Linked DNA regions of Homo sapiens. The protein of the gene in region 2 interacts with the protein of the main gene of each other region in a biochemical or structural test. Each region holds a gene or a part of one and is shown on either strand. Other genes may lie near its edges.

Region 1 (4,586 bases), on a different chromosome or scaffold from region 2:
CACAGTGGCTTACACCTGTAATCCCAACACTTTAGAAGGCCGAGGTGGGCAGATCACCTGAGGTCAGGAATTCGAGACTAGTCTGGCCAACATGGTGAAACCCCATCTCTACTAAAACTGCAAAATTAGCCGGGCATGGTGGTACATGCCTGTAATCCCAGCTACTTGGGAGGCTGAGGCAGGAGAATCACTTGAATCTGGGAGGCAGAGGTTGCAGCGAGCCAACATCGTACCACTGCACTCCAGCCTGGGCAACAGAGTGAAACCGGCACACCTTTACCTATGTAAAAAACCTGCACATCCTGCAAATGTACCTTGAAACTTAATTAAAAAAAAAAAAAAAAAGAGGCTGGGCATGGTGGCTCACGCCTATAATCCCAGCACTTTGGGGGGCCTAGGCGGGCAGATCACCTGAACTCAGGAGTTCAAGACCAGCCTGCCCAACCTGGTGAAATCCTATCTCTACTAAAAATACAAAATTAGCCAGGCGAGGTGGCTCATGCCTGTAATCCCGGCTACTCGGGAGGCTGAGGCAGGAGAATTGCTTGAACCTGGGAGGCGGAAGTTGCAGTGAGCCAAGATCGTACCATTGCACTCCAGCCTGGGCAACAAGAGTGAAACTCGGTCTCAAAAAAAAAAAAAAGAATGCATTTTGATTATAATATTCTAAGTTATTAAATGCCTAGATACCATTATTGAACATCTACTCATATCTACTTATCATGTGTAAGACACTAAAGTGGCTGTTTTGGAAAAAACAAATTACGATGTATATACATATATATCTCCTAATATATAATATACTCTATATATAACATATAATATAGTCCTTAGAAGTAAATACTACTAATTTACAGGAAAGCAATATTTAAGAAATTAATATTTGACTAAGACCACATACTGAGTAAAGGAAATATTTGGGAAAAATAAACTTCCTTTCACTATACTAATTTGAACTCAAATTTATTTATCTGTGCTTTTAACACTTTATAAAAATATTTTACAGTCTGAAATATAGTAGAGATGTAATATAAATTTTGAAAGGCACTTCTCTGCCTAGCTGTTCTACAAGTGTTCATTCCTAAAAGTCTGTCAGCTGATCTCATGGGATTATAAGAACCTTATTCCCAGTTGATCCCTGAGTAGGCCACTTCCCTTTTTCCTACCTGAATTACCATGAGCCAAGTTTGTAAATGGGGTAACAAGAATACATATTTTGTTAAGAGGGAAACAAATTCATCACTTCAACTTTATAATATTTTGTTCCATGCAAAGATCATTTACAAAGATTGGTCCCATAATATTTACCTAGAAGGAATCACTCAGATAAAGGCATCACTTACCAATAAAGCATTTAATTCATCCTATTCAAAATGTCCTCAATAAATTATCTTTACTCTGAGCCCTAAAAGATACACTGTCTATTAGACTTGAAAGAATAGTCATTTAGTAGAGCTTAAATCAATATATGAAATATAAATTTTAATTTTTTTGTAGAAACAGATTTTCCTTTTATTGCCCAGGCTGATCTAGAACTCCTGGATCAAGCAATCCTCCAGCCTCGGCCTCCCAAAGTGATGGGATTGCAGGGGTGACCAGCTGTGCCTGACATAATATTTTATTATCATGAAACATTTTTCTCATTTTTCCCTGTTTTACTCATCTGCATGGATTTGAATATCTACATTTACTTCTTTTTTCAAATTCTAAAGTATAGACTCTCAAGAAGATGACATATTTTTAAAATAATTACATTGGATTTAAAAACATATAGTGTAGGAGCAACTAGTAAAAGTTGACAGATACCACATCCAGTGAAATTACCCCCAGTTAAAATAATAATAATAATAATAATAATAATAATAATAATAATAATAATCATCATCATCATCATTAGATAATGGGCTGAGCGCGGTGGCTCATGCTTGTAATCCCAGCACTTTGGGAGGTCGAGGCGGGCGGATCACTAGGTCAGGAGATTGAGACCATCCTGGCTAACATGGTGAAACTCCGTCTCTACTAAAAATACAAAAACATTAGCCGGGCACGGTGGTAGGCGCCTGTAGTCCCAGCTACTCGGAGGCTGAGGCAGGAGAATGGTGTGAACCCAGGACGCGGAGCTTGCAGTGAGCCAAGATCGCGCCACTGCACTCCAGCCTGGGCGACAGAGCGAGACTCCGTCTCAAAAAAATAAAAAATAAAAAAAAAAAAGAATCTTTAAAAATCAGATAATACAGGGAGTCTAGGTGTGCATATAGCACATAAAATTTTTATTAAAAATCTTATGGGAATGTTTTTAATACTTATATTTTAATGCATGCTTCTAATCTTATTTATCTTTCTTTAGAGGCTCAATTTTCCAATTATTTGTACTAATAGTTTGACCTAAAAGTGGAGTAAAATTTGCCTTACTGGCGTACATATCAAACATTTGGAAGATGAGATGTAGGAGAGAAGAAGGAAAAAAAAAAAGAAAAAGGGCATTCATTGCAGGGCAGGATGCTAACTTAATTGTAAATGTACACACTCTTTCTAAATTTCCAAGTGAACAATCCTAGGTGCAATTAGAGCTTTATTGTATTTTGATAAATGATTCAGAAAGCTTTGTAAAAAATCCAAGGAGACATTTTAAAGAAATTTATGATCAGTAATAGCAGTCTCTCTAACACTTGACATAACAAGAGGAAATCATAAAATGAATAGCAAGGAAATTACAGTTAAAGTAACGTTAGGTTTCAACAGTAATATATGGCATTTTTGGCTCCATGTTATATCACTTTAAAAAATCTAAAGATAGTTCATCTCCTGTGTTAAAGAAACAACAACAACATATTTTTTGCTTACAGTAAGTTGTTATTTTAAAAAGAGACGTGGAAAGAACGGTTTTCTCTATAGAACTAAAAAGATATAGAATAATTCAGTTCTACATATGTCAATTCAAACTTGTCTGTGGCAGATTATGCTTACTGGCACTGTTCAAGGCATTCCCCTCTTCCTTCCCCACTTTATCATGGCCTGGCATTTTTCCTCACCACCCAGAAGGGTTTCATTCCTCCAAACTTCATTCCACCTTTAGCTGCCAAGAGCTGATGGCTTTTTCTTTTGCCTAAAGCCATTTCCTTCCAGCAAGGCAGAGGAAAGGGTAAGTGATACCTTCAATGAAGAAATTTCATTTTTTAGAATGGCAGGACACCAAAATTGTTATCTCATATTCCACAAAAGTATTCTACCCACATTCTCTGGATGCTCTCATAAATCCTCATATAAAATATTTTTATACAATTTTATAATATCTATTTTAATATGACCTTGCCTCTCAAGTGGTAATCTAACTCTACACAGTTCTAAAGGAAGATGTCATAATACTTCTGTAAAGAATAAATTAGCTAATTTGTGATGTGTAATATGAAGGACCATCTTCAATTAGTACACAGATGCCCTCCAATACAACATCCACAATATGTCCTCTTCAGAGCAAATTTTTAAAAATCCCTGCTCACAATTAGTGAAATAATTTAGTCCTTCAAGATGTAATGTGGTAACCAAATTATTTACCAAAAATCTGTGGCTGGCCATTTGCTACATAAAAAAATCATTAATCAGTTTGTCACCTAATTGAAAGCTAAATTTTCAACCAAATGTTAATAGCAAAACTAGTTGTTTGTTTAATATCTTTAAGCATAGTCTGCAAAAATAAAGGGGGGAGGCAAATCACCATACAAAGTGTGTGTGTGTGTGTGTGTGAGTGTGAGTGTGTGTGTGGTAAAATTCTAGTATGAAAATGACACAATCATTTATGAGCATGAAGTTTGCAGTCCTTACTTCCACTCTAATAACAGTGATGGGTCTTCATGGATAAGCCCACATTGCCTCTCTGAACCTTCCTTAGAGAATGCTTCAAATATTTGGATAATGTGCCCTTTGTACCTGGGGCAAACATCAATTTAGACCGTGTGGAAACCTAACTTATGGCCTCCGCCTCATCTGACTACATTTCTATCAACTGAGCTCACATAAGCATCTATGTTTATTTTAAAAGAATATTTTAAATTCATAGTCAGTGACTATTGACTGGCCCTCAAATTTCTGTTAGATGATACAGATTTAAACCTAACAAGGTTATCATTTTAGATTTGGAGTCACTTATAACCATATTAGTTTATGCAATCCAATTTTTTCTTAAAATATATTTTAATACATTTGTGGTCACTGCCTTTCTAAGAATGCATTACAAATTACTTACCTTTAAGTACATTATCACCTACACTGATAAAAGAGAGAATACATCTCAGGATATTTTAATTTTACCTCCTCAATATCATACCATGATATTGTAAAAATACTAAATGCTTGACAAATAAAAAATAGAATCACAAAATTCATGTTTCCAGGGTTAATATGCTTTATTCTGGAAGAATCCATATTTTTGTATTTTATTATTTATATAAATATCTACGAACCCCCTACTACTTGATGCCAGGCACTATTCTGGAAGCTAAGTCAACAATGAAGACATAGTCTGGGTTCCCTTGGAGTATTTGGTATGCAAATTCACAAAATACCTGCATGCTGTAACAAGCAGTATG
Region 2 (5,672 bases):
ACGCCATTGTACTCCAGCCTGGCGACAGAGCAAGACTCCGTCTCAAAAAAAAAACAAACAAACAAAAAAAAAAAACAAAAAACCGTGACAATAACCAAATAAGACTTAAGTCTTTTACACCTTCAAAATATGTCACCATGGCATGTCAACCAATCCTCCCTAAAAATTGGTTATTTGGCCCCAGACACTATTTAGCAGGTTGCTCACATCACATCTTTAAGCAATTTGAGACTATATGGGTCTGTGTATAGAACGCATCATAGTTTTTTGTTTAAGTTCAGTCTTTTACAGCCTTACAAATGTTAAATGCTAAAGGCTATAAAGGAGCTGACTCACCTGGTCTTGGTCCTCTAGGAGGAAAACCAGGTCGTTCTCTAGGTCGTTGTTCACGCACACGAGGTGGCTGAGATTGAACTTCTGGTTTAGCTTCGACTCTTGGCTAAAATATAAAGAAAAAAAAACATTATAAAAAACACTCCACTGGAGAAAAACCAACCAAAGCACCTAACGACAAGTCACTAGCAGACATAACAGTAGTTTTAAGTTTAGAATGTTTTTAACATAGTGTCCTATGTATGAGAAAAATAAATTTTTATCAAGATATTCTGTACCAATCTAGGACTGTAGGTAGCTTTTGTTTTCCCACTTAATGCTGTGTAACTCACAATAAGTTGCTTTTTACAGTCACATTTTTTCATTAAAGTTATATCAACACTGAAATAGCATAAAAGGTATTGCTACCAAAAAAAAAAATCACAAAAATGCAAGATGAACCACTCCATGTAAATACATAAACAAAATTAAAAGCCATCTTCATCTTAGACAAGAATACATAACACATAATTTCTGAAAATCTAATTTGCTATCCTTCAAATGTAACAGTGCTCAGTAGTATTGCCTAAATCTCTGCCCATAACCTTAAAATCAGTATTTTTATAGTTCAAAGTATAAAAATTAGCTTGCTCTAACACCTGAAATTGCTACCTGTAAGGTTAAAATGCATGTTAAAAAAATGACAGAAACTTATAGGAACTTGTATGTAGCATCTCAAATAGTTAAAGTCCTTTAGCTCCCTACTGTTCTTCCTTATGAGAAAAATATGCATTTGAAGTATTGGTCCCAACGATTTTCCTTAACTAGGGGTCTGGGAGTAATAGGACAGTTTAAGATGCCTCCCAAAAGTTTCTGCCAACTGCTGAATTAAACATATAATTATTTTTAAAACAAAATTACATCGGCGTCTGCTATTACCTTTTCCTCAAGACAACAGCATTTTCAGTATTCCCAACCTCTTCAGACCTTCTACTACCCAAATATTTATGGTCCAAGGAGAGACAAATATATGAGCCTACAAAGGATGCTGAAAACACCCAACAGGATATGGAGAACATGTCCTCAACTCAGAAAGCTAGTAATTTCAGTCCCATCTTTAAAGATGGTCATCTCCATGTAATCCCAGCACTTTGGGAGGCCAAGCTGCGCGGATCACCTGAGGTCAGGAGTTTGAGACCAGCCTGCCCAATATGGCGAAACCCAGTCTCTACTAAAAATACAAAAAATTAGCTGGGTGTGGTGGCAGGCACCTGTAACCCCAGCTACTTGGGAGGCTGAGGCAGGAGAATCGCTTGAACCCGGAAGACGGAGGTTGCAGTGAGCCAAGATCACGCCACTGCACTCCAGCCTGGGCAACAAGAGTGAAACTCCTTCTCACAGAAATAAATAAGTAAATAAATAAAAAAGTGGTCATCTCTGAGGACCTCAGTCCATGCAGCGGCTCAAACTCTTTAATCATTTATATAACAGATATTGTAATTTACAAGGACAAATTCTGACACAAAAATGCTTCCTTCAGCCAGGCACAGTAGCTCATGCCTATCACCCCAGCACTTTGGGAGGCCGAGGCGGGCAGATCACCTGAGGTCGGGAGTTCGAGACCAGCCTGACTAACATGGAGAAACCCTGTCTCTACTAAAAATACAAAATCAGCCGGGTGTGGTGGCACATGCCTGTAATCCCAGCTACTAGGGAGGCTGAGGCAGGAGAATCACTTGAACCTGGGAGGCGGAGGTTGCGTGAGCAGATCATTGTACTCCAGCCTGGGCAACAAGAGAGAAACTCCATCTCAAAAAAAAAAAAAAAAAAAGCTTCTTTCAAAAATGACAATTTAATGTAAATGATTTCAGCCACTGTAACCAAAAGGAATATTAACTCCTATGCTAACAGTTTAACCAAGTTTGCCTGCCTCTTCCTAAATTCTGTTTTCCTCTATGTCAATGTCCTATTTCCCTCAAGATGAAGTTGCTTACCATATTCTAGAATTCTACTAGTTATAAAATGAATATTTTTAACTCTCTCCAGGTTTTGTTGTTATTTATATGTATTTACTCCTATAAAGTCTGTATCTTTTATTTTTTTAGAGAGACACAGTCTTACTCTATTGCCCAGGCTGGAGTGCAGTGGCACAATCATAGCTCACTGTAACCTCAAATTCCTAGGCTCAAGTGATCCTCCTGCCTCAGCCTCCCAAGCAGCTGAGACTACAGGCACGCCAGTGCCCAAGGCCCATATCTTAACTTACTTTTACATCACCCAAAGAACCAAGCACAGTGCTATTAGACACAGATGTTCAGTAACTATTTGTTCATTTAAATTAAATTACATTTTTAGTTCTCTGACCCAAAACATGCAGGATAATGTTCTATGTCTGACAAAGATACGTAAGTGACAGCCCTGAGACCACCGCTATCTGTATTTGGGGTTTAATTCTATATAATAATTTGATGCAAAATGTGATGCTGAAAAAGGCAGTTATTTAGAAACTTCAACTAAGGGGGTCTAAAGGCATACTTCAGTATGAATATAAACAGAATTAGAGAATAAACGTACTCTGTCAAAGTTTAATAAAGTGAGTGTATTACTGGCAATTAATAAAAACACTAAATGCACCTTTATTACAAAATTTAAGAAAAACCTTAGACTCATTCAATCCAAATGTTATCAAAGAACTTGAGGCCCTGGTCTTGACTGATTTAAATTCTTTTCAAAACAGATTATCAAAACACGAGTAACTACAAGTAGCAAAATAAAGTTCTTCCTTATTCTTTAAGGATGAAAATTAAAAACAGATAAAGTTAAATATTAATAATTTCCAACATCTTACAAATAATTCATGCCATTGATTTAGGAATCTGACTTTAAGTAGATATCTGATGATGCCAGTTTAAGAAAAATACAAGAACAAAAAGCTAACACTGTCCCTTTCAGTAACTGATTGACATATGTTAACTAAGTCAGCTGCATACTTATAATTCTTCAGGTCTCCAGTTTCATGATTAAAACTAGTTTTTCTGAACAGATAACATGGCCAATATGCCACACAGTAGAGGGCCTTAAAATTAATTCCATGCAACCAGAAAGTATGATCAAATGACAAACCCACAAATGAAGGTCAAACAGAATATGAAGTAAGTACAGAACCATCAAATCAAGTCAATAAAAGCAGGTATAACCACAAATAATAAGCCCTTCAATTAAACATAAGCTTTGTAGGTGAACTAGTCAATTTCCAGACAAAATATTTTATTCAAGAAATTAACTTACCTACTTCTAAGTTAATGCCTACCAATACCCTGGAATTAACTTCCTTTTATCAATAATCTATGTTCAAAGTACAAGGAAATGAATACTACACAAAAGTAACAAACTAAAATTGAAGGATTATTAAATCAAGTAGAAATATCATGAATCCATTTTAAGTATAGCCTAAAGACATTAGAACGTTCTTTTAAAGTTTAAATTCTAAACATTTAAAATTTTTGTTTTATTAAAGGGGTGGCATAGGAAATACAACTTCATTTCCTACAACTAACTTTGAAAATATATTTAAGGCAAACTACTTGAGATAAATATGAAGGTATTTTTCTGGGCAAGAGACTAGGATTTAATCAGGCATGTCTTAAGAGTCCTCTTTGATGCAAATACAGATAAGATACATGACTCTGCAGCAAGGTGCTGGAGAATTGCATAAGGTTTACATGAGGCTGGGCGCAGTGGCTCATGCCTGTAATCCCCACCGTTTGGGAGGCCAATGCGGGTGGATCACTTGGGTCAGGAGTTTGAGACCAGCCTGGTCTACATGGTGAAACCCCGTCTCTACTAAATATACAAAAATTAGCCAGGCGTGGTGGCGGGCACCTACAATCCCAGCTATTCGGGAGGCTGAGGCAGGAGAATCACTTGAGCTGGGGAGGTGGAGGTTGCAGTGAGCTAAGATAACGCCACTGCCACTACCACTGCACTCCAGCCTGGGCGACAGAGCGAGACTCTGTCTCAAAAAAATAAACGTTTACATGAGCCACATATGGACTCATGTCCCACTGCATGACTTCAAAGCCCAACCCTACTATGTACATAAATGTCTGTGAGTTACTCTAGACCTCAATTTTTTGATCTCTAAAACAGAAACAATAGTACCCACCCTGACAGGGTGGTTGTGAGGATTCACTGAAAATGAACAAAAAGTGCTTCACACAATGCTTGGCGCATATCAAAGGCATAAGCACTAGCTATTTTAACTTTTAACTGTTTAAACTCTCTGAAATGAAATAATCCAAAGGTTCCAAATCCAAATCTGATAGGAAATGAAGATTCCAAAAGAAGGGCCAAAAGTTATTTATTGGGTCTTCATATGGGTAGAAAAGCACAAAACAATACTGCACAAACTAATTTCCTTTGTTAAGATGGAACTCTGGGTGACCATCTTACATAAGGGTAACCACGCATTGCCTGAATACCCAAATGAAAAAAAAAAAAAAGTATCACGGGCGTATTCTACTTTTATGTAGCTGATTATGTGTCCCAACACCAAAAAACTAAAAATTACTACTTTTAAAACCTCAAAATTTCACTGCTTAGAACATATAAAAGATACATTTATATACTAACATTTCAAACATAAATTTTCTAGTGGAATGAAGTTTAATGCAAAATGTAGGGAAAAAATTGGACACCCTTTATATGCTGATAAACTTAATTAGAATTTAGTTCATTCTAAACTAAATCTAACAAACTTCTTAGGTAGGCAGTGTCTTATTTTCACATTTTTGAAAGCTCTGAAATGGGTAAGATGACAAACAGACAAAAAGCAGAATACTAGAATGATCAGTTAAGGTGAACACTACAGTCATAAGTTGGTACAGGCTTCAATTAAGTGGTGTGAACCACTTACACACTGAGAGCTTAGGCAGCGTATGTTAAAAAGTTTCCTGGTTTTTTTTTTTTTTGCTTTAAAAAAAAAAAAAAAAACAAAAACGATTCTTTATTACGCCACACTACTTTGTGCCTCTCCGAATTTCTTACCTAAAATATTTTTGCTAAATAGAATTTGAAGCTTTTGAAAAAGGAACATTCTTTTTGTTATTTTAAGAAGCCTTTTAAATGACAATATTATATACTGGTAAAAACCAACTTAATCTGTATTTCACACACCCAAACCCCAAATACCACCTATGTAGATGATGAATGGAGATTTGACATTTAAAGTGGGTGCACTGACATATAATACAAGTTTTTTGTATATTTAATCCATAATTTCTGATTGACTCATTTTTAAAAGTATTTTAAAAATAAGCAATTGGCAATGTAACAAGGATACAATCCAATGTGTTCACAGA
Region 3 (4,586 bases), on a different chromosome or scaffold from region 2:
CTCCAGCCTGGAGGACAGAGCAAGACTCCATCTCAAAAAGAGAAAAAGACATGGAGAGAAGGGAGACACTACTTTGAAAAGTCCCCCCACCCTCCCTTTCTGTTCCTCAGCCTCTGATGAAATCCCATGAAAATGAAGGAGAAGACGCAAGCTCTAAGTCACACACGATCTCAGAGGGGTAGGGGACGAGGACGCAGGAGGCAGAGGTGGCTGGGACTGGCAGCCACCGAGGCCACATTTGTGAGCTTCGTCATGTAACCAGAGATGGGGTAGACAAGGAGGTCAGAGCGATAACAAGATTCCCACAAAATGGCAGGGCCACCAGAGATATTTGTGGCCCCATTAACAAAGACCAGAAGGCCGGGTTGTCATGGAAGGAACATTTCTAACCGAGCAGCATCTCAGCACGGCTGTTCAGCGCCATAAACATCCATTCATCTGTGCGGGGACTGTGAGGCTAATGTGCCTGTGGGCTGTGGCACTCCTGGAGCAGCGCTGATGTATTAGAAGGACCCAAAGCAGTTTTAACGATAAAAATATCTTGAAAGCTCATCAGTAAAAACTGTTGTGAGCTCAGATCAAGGAACAAAACAAAAAGCATGAAGACTCCGAAAAGCATCCCAGGGAATGAGCGGCTTAGGGGGTTACCAGACATTGGGAGGCTGGTTCAATACCCAAGGCAGGTTTAGAAACATCCAGAAACACTGCTCTCAAATCCAGAAGAAACCGGGCCAGGCCTGCTCCTTTGCAAAAACCAAGCTTGGGCTCAATGGGGCTAGAGGGCCGGGGGTATAGGGGAACAGACCTACAGCTGGCACCCAAATTCACGATTGCTGCCATTTAACATTATCTGGGATGGGGTGAAGGGTGGCCCCCAAAATTCATGTCTACCTGGAACCTGTGCTTGCCAGCTTATCTGGAAACTGGGTTTTGCAGATGTAATTAAGGAAAAGATCTTGAGAGAAGATACAACCTAGATTTAGGGTGGACCCTAATCTGATGGTAGGTATCCTTATAAAAGAAAGGCAGCCAGGTGTGATGGTGGGCGTCTGTGGTCCCAGCTACTCAGGAGGCTGAGGCAGGAGGATTGCTTGAGCCCAGGGGGTTGAGGCTGTAGTGAGCCACAATTACGCCACTGCACTCCAGCCGGAGCAACAGAGCAAGACTCTGTCTCAAAAACTAAAATAAATAAAAGCAGAGGGATTTCTGAGACGCAGAGACACAGGGAGAAAGCTAAATAATGATAAAGGCAGAGACTGGAGTGATGTAGCCACAGGCCAAGGAGCACCTGGGGCCACCAGAAGCTGAGGCGCCTTCAGAGAGTCCAGCCCTGCCAACACCTTGATTTCACACTCCTGGCTCCAGAACTGGGGAAAAAATTCATTTCTGTTGCTTTAAGCCTCCCCACCATGCCCCAATTTATGGTAATTTGTTACAATAACCCCATAAAACTAATACATCATCTCTTTACCTGCCTCAGCCTCAGTTTCCCCATCTATGGGATGGGAGGGAGTCACCCAGAACCCCAGACTACCCAGGGGCGGCTGAGGAAGCGCACATCATTCACGTGTACATCGTCCTCTTCCGTGGGTCAGACTCAGCTGCTCAGTGGCAAAGTACAGAGGCTCAGTCGTGTCTGATCCACAGGTCCGCTCGGGGATAAATATTTGTCAAATGAAGGAAAGATCCAAATTATCTGGTCTCAACAGCATTGTATGCCAGGCAGGTGGGTTAGCATGGGGCCTGGGAGCCAGGGGCCTGGGTTGCATCCTAGCTCTGTCCTCACTAGCATCCGGGCCCGCCTCCTCAGCTGTAGGATGAAGACATGTGGGTATGGTGGGGAGGTGAACATGTAAAAGGACCTAGCTCAGTGCCTAGCAGAGGAGCCTGGGAACAGCGACCCACTGCTGTGATGATGGTGTCTGGCCGGCCATGGGGCCTTTCTAACCCAGCCTGCACCCTGATCCTGCCCTGGGTCCGAGCCAGGTAACAAAGGAGGGTACAGATGCACCACTGGGTGCTTCCAGAGGCTGGAATCTACATGAAATCCCAACCACAGACCCTCAGAGTGGAAGGGAAGGCCCTTGGAGGACCCGGTGTTACTGGCCCGGGCTCCTATCCTGGCTCAGATGCCCTCATACTGGGTAGACAGAGACTCTCTTCCTGTGGCTCGCAGGTTTCTCACCTGCAGGATGCAGAGGATGAGAAATAGGATCTGCAGGGTCCCCTGAAACATTCTTACTCTGATCCGGGGCACACCCAGGGTGCCACCTCATCTTAGGGACACTTACTTGACTCTTGGTCCTATAGGCTCGACACCCATTGCACAGATGAGGCACAAACCTGCAAAAAAGACAGGGTCACCCACAGTTCTTCGTTATCAAACCCAAAGCAACAAAAAGGTCCCGGGAGAGGTCCTCAGGGACCCAGGAGGCCAGCAAGGCCTCCGCCCATGGGTGCCCCTGGCTCAGGCCCCCTGGAGAGGCAACACAGTGGAGCTGGAAGGACGGGGCTGGAGTCCCAGCTCAACATGCCCTAATGACTTAGGCAGAGGTCTGGCAGCAACCGACTTCCCAGAGCCCCATCTTTCAGGCAACCTTGACAACATGCCCCCCCACAGCAGAGTCTATGAGGAGATGGTGAGAGTCCATGCCTGACACCCGGGAAGTGCTCGGCAACTGGCAGCTACCATTACTTTCTTTTGTTGTGTGTGTGTTTTTTTTTTTTTTTTTTTTTTTTTGAGACGGAGTCTCACTCTGCTGCCAGGCTGGAGTGCAGTGGCACCATCTCGGCTCACTGCAACCTCCACCTCCCGGGTTCAAGTCATTCTCGTGCCTCAGCCTCCCGAGTAGCTGGGACTACAGGTGCGTGCCACCACACCCCGCTCATTTTTGTATTTTTAGTAGAGACGGGATTTCACCATGTTGGTCAGGATGGTCTGGACCTCTTGACCTCGTGATCCGCCCGCCTTGGCCTCCCAAAGTGCTGGGATTACAGGCATGAGCCACTGCACCCAGCCCTTTTTTTTTTTTTTTTTAAATAGTTCTGCTAGGATTCAGGGCCATGTAGCTTGGCCTAAAGCTCCCAAAGGATCCTCTCTCAACTCAAACCTGTCCTGGGCAGTCCTTCCCACCACAGGAAATAGCCAGCGCTACAACTGGCCACCTGGTCACAGCATCAGAATTTAATCTAACAGCCCAGACCAGGGAGTGTGAGGGAGGAGCCACGTGGCCACAGCCTCACCTCTGAGAAGCTCCACCCAGAGCCTGAGTGAGGAGCCGTGTGGCCACACCCTCAGCCCTGAAAGCCCCGCCCAGAGCCTGAGGGAAGGGCTGTGTGACCACACTCTCATCTCTGAAAGGCCCGCCCAGAGCTGAGGGAGGAGATGCATGGCCACACCCCTCACCTCTAAAACCTCCTCTCAGAGCCTGAGGGAGGAGCTATGTGGCCACACCCCTCACCTCTGAAAGCCCCGCCCAGAGCCAAGGGAGGAGCTGTGTAGCCACACCCTCACCTCTGAAAGCTCCACCCTAAGCCCGAGGGAGAAGCCACAAGGCCACACCCCTCACCTCTGAAAGCCTCGCCCACAGCCTGAATAAGGAGCTGCGTGGCCACACCCTCACCTCTGAAAGCCCGGCCCAGAACTGAGGGAGGAGTCGTGTGGCCACATCCCCATCAATGAAAGCTCCGCTCAGAGCATGCAGGAGCAGCTGTGTGGCCACACCCCTCACCTCTGAAAGCCCTGCCCAGAGTCGAGGGAGGAGCTGTATAGCCACACCCTCACCTGTGAAAGCGCCACCCTAAGCCCAAGGGAGAAGCCACATGGCCACACCCCTCTCCTCTCTAAAAGTTCCACCCAGAACCTGAGGGAGGAGCCACATGGCCACTCCCCTCACCTCTGAGAGCTCTGGGCAGAGCCAGGAGCAGAGTGGGTGGCTGTTCTCCTCCCCTCCCTTCACTTCACTTCCCCAGTCTTTATCTCTTAATCCCAGTAGACCCCAATTTACGGGAGCTGGGGCAGGTACGGTTAGATTCTCAAGGGACTACATCAAAGACAACCCCTGAATCTTAATTCACCTGCTAAGAACCCACTTTTCATATTCCACACATCAGTTGGCCTCTTTGATAACCAACATTTCTCTGTGGCCCTCAATTCTTCCATCGCCCCCCCACCTCCGGGGTATTGACAAAGTTGTCACCACCCACTTACCTGGGACCCTGAACAATGTTTCGTTTCATGCCCCCATTCGAGTTTTGGAAGACCTGTAAGAGCCTCTACCTGTGCTTTCTGTTAAGTTTCACCAATGGGCATCTACTTCTTGTCTGTTTGACATAACGGCTGCATCAGGGTGTTGGGGATACCTGGCTAAGGGTCCCCAAGCTCGATGTCTGTTTGGCATGGTTCCAGTCGCGGCTGAATCACAGGGTCCACTCACGGAACACGCACTGAGGGAGTCTCGACTGTGTACTCAACACTTGCTGTGTGTGGGGCCCTGGAACACACCCCCCACTGCGGATCTGGAGTCTCTGTTCTGGGCTCCAGTGGGCCACTACAGTGTACCCTTTTCCACTGGAAGAAGCATCCC

The links.
Region 1: the proteins of G3BP2 (region 2) and SCN9A interact in a surface display test, tested with the Homo sapiens proteins (one large-scale study listed by IntAct).
Region 3: the proteins of G3BP2 (region 2) and SLC38A8 interact in a surface display test, tested with the Homo sapiens proteins (one large-scale study listed by IntAct).

The regions. Positions count from the first base shown.
Region 1 is NC_000002.12:166,368,359-166,372,944, forward strand, and holds part of SCN9A (sodium channel protein type 9 subunit alpha), read right to left. Parts: intron 1-4,586. UniProt on the Homo sapiens protein: Pore-forming subunit of Nav1.7, a voltage-gated sodium (Nav) channel that directly mediates the depolarizing phase of action potentials in excitable membranes.
Region 2 is NC_000004.12:75,648,303-75,653,974, forward strand, and holds part of G3BP2 (ras GTPase-activating protein-binding protein 2), read right to left. Parts: intron 440-5,672; coding exon 337-439; intron 1-336.
Region 3 is NC_000016.10:84,010,710-84,015,295, forward strand, and holds part of SLC38A8 (solute carrier family 38 member 8), read right to left. Parts: intron 2,344-4,586; coding exon 2,292-2,343; intron 1-2,291. UniProt on the Homo sapiens protein: Electrogenic sodium-dependent amino acid transporter with a preference for L-glutamine, L-alanine, L-histidine, L-aspartate and L-arginine. May facilitate glutamine uptake in both excitatory and inhibitory neurons.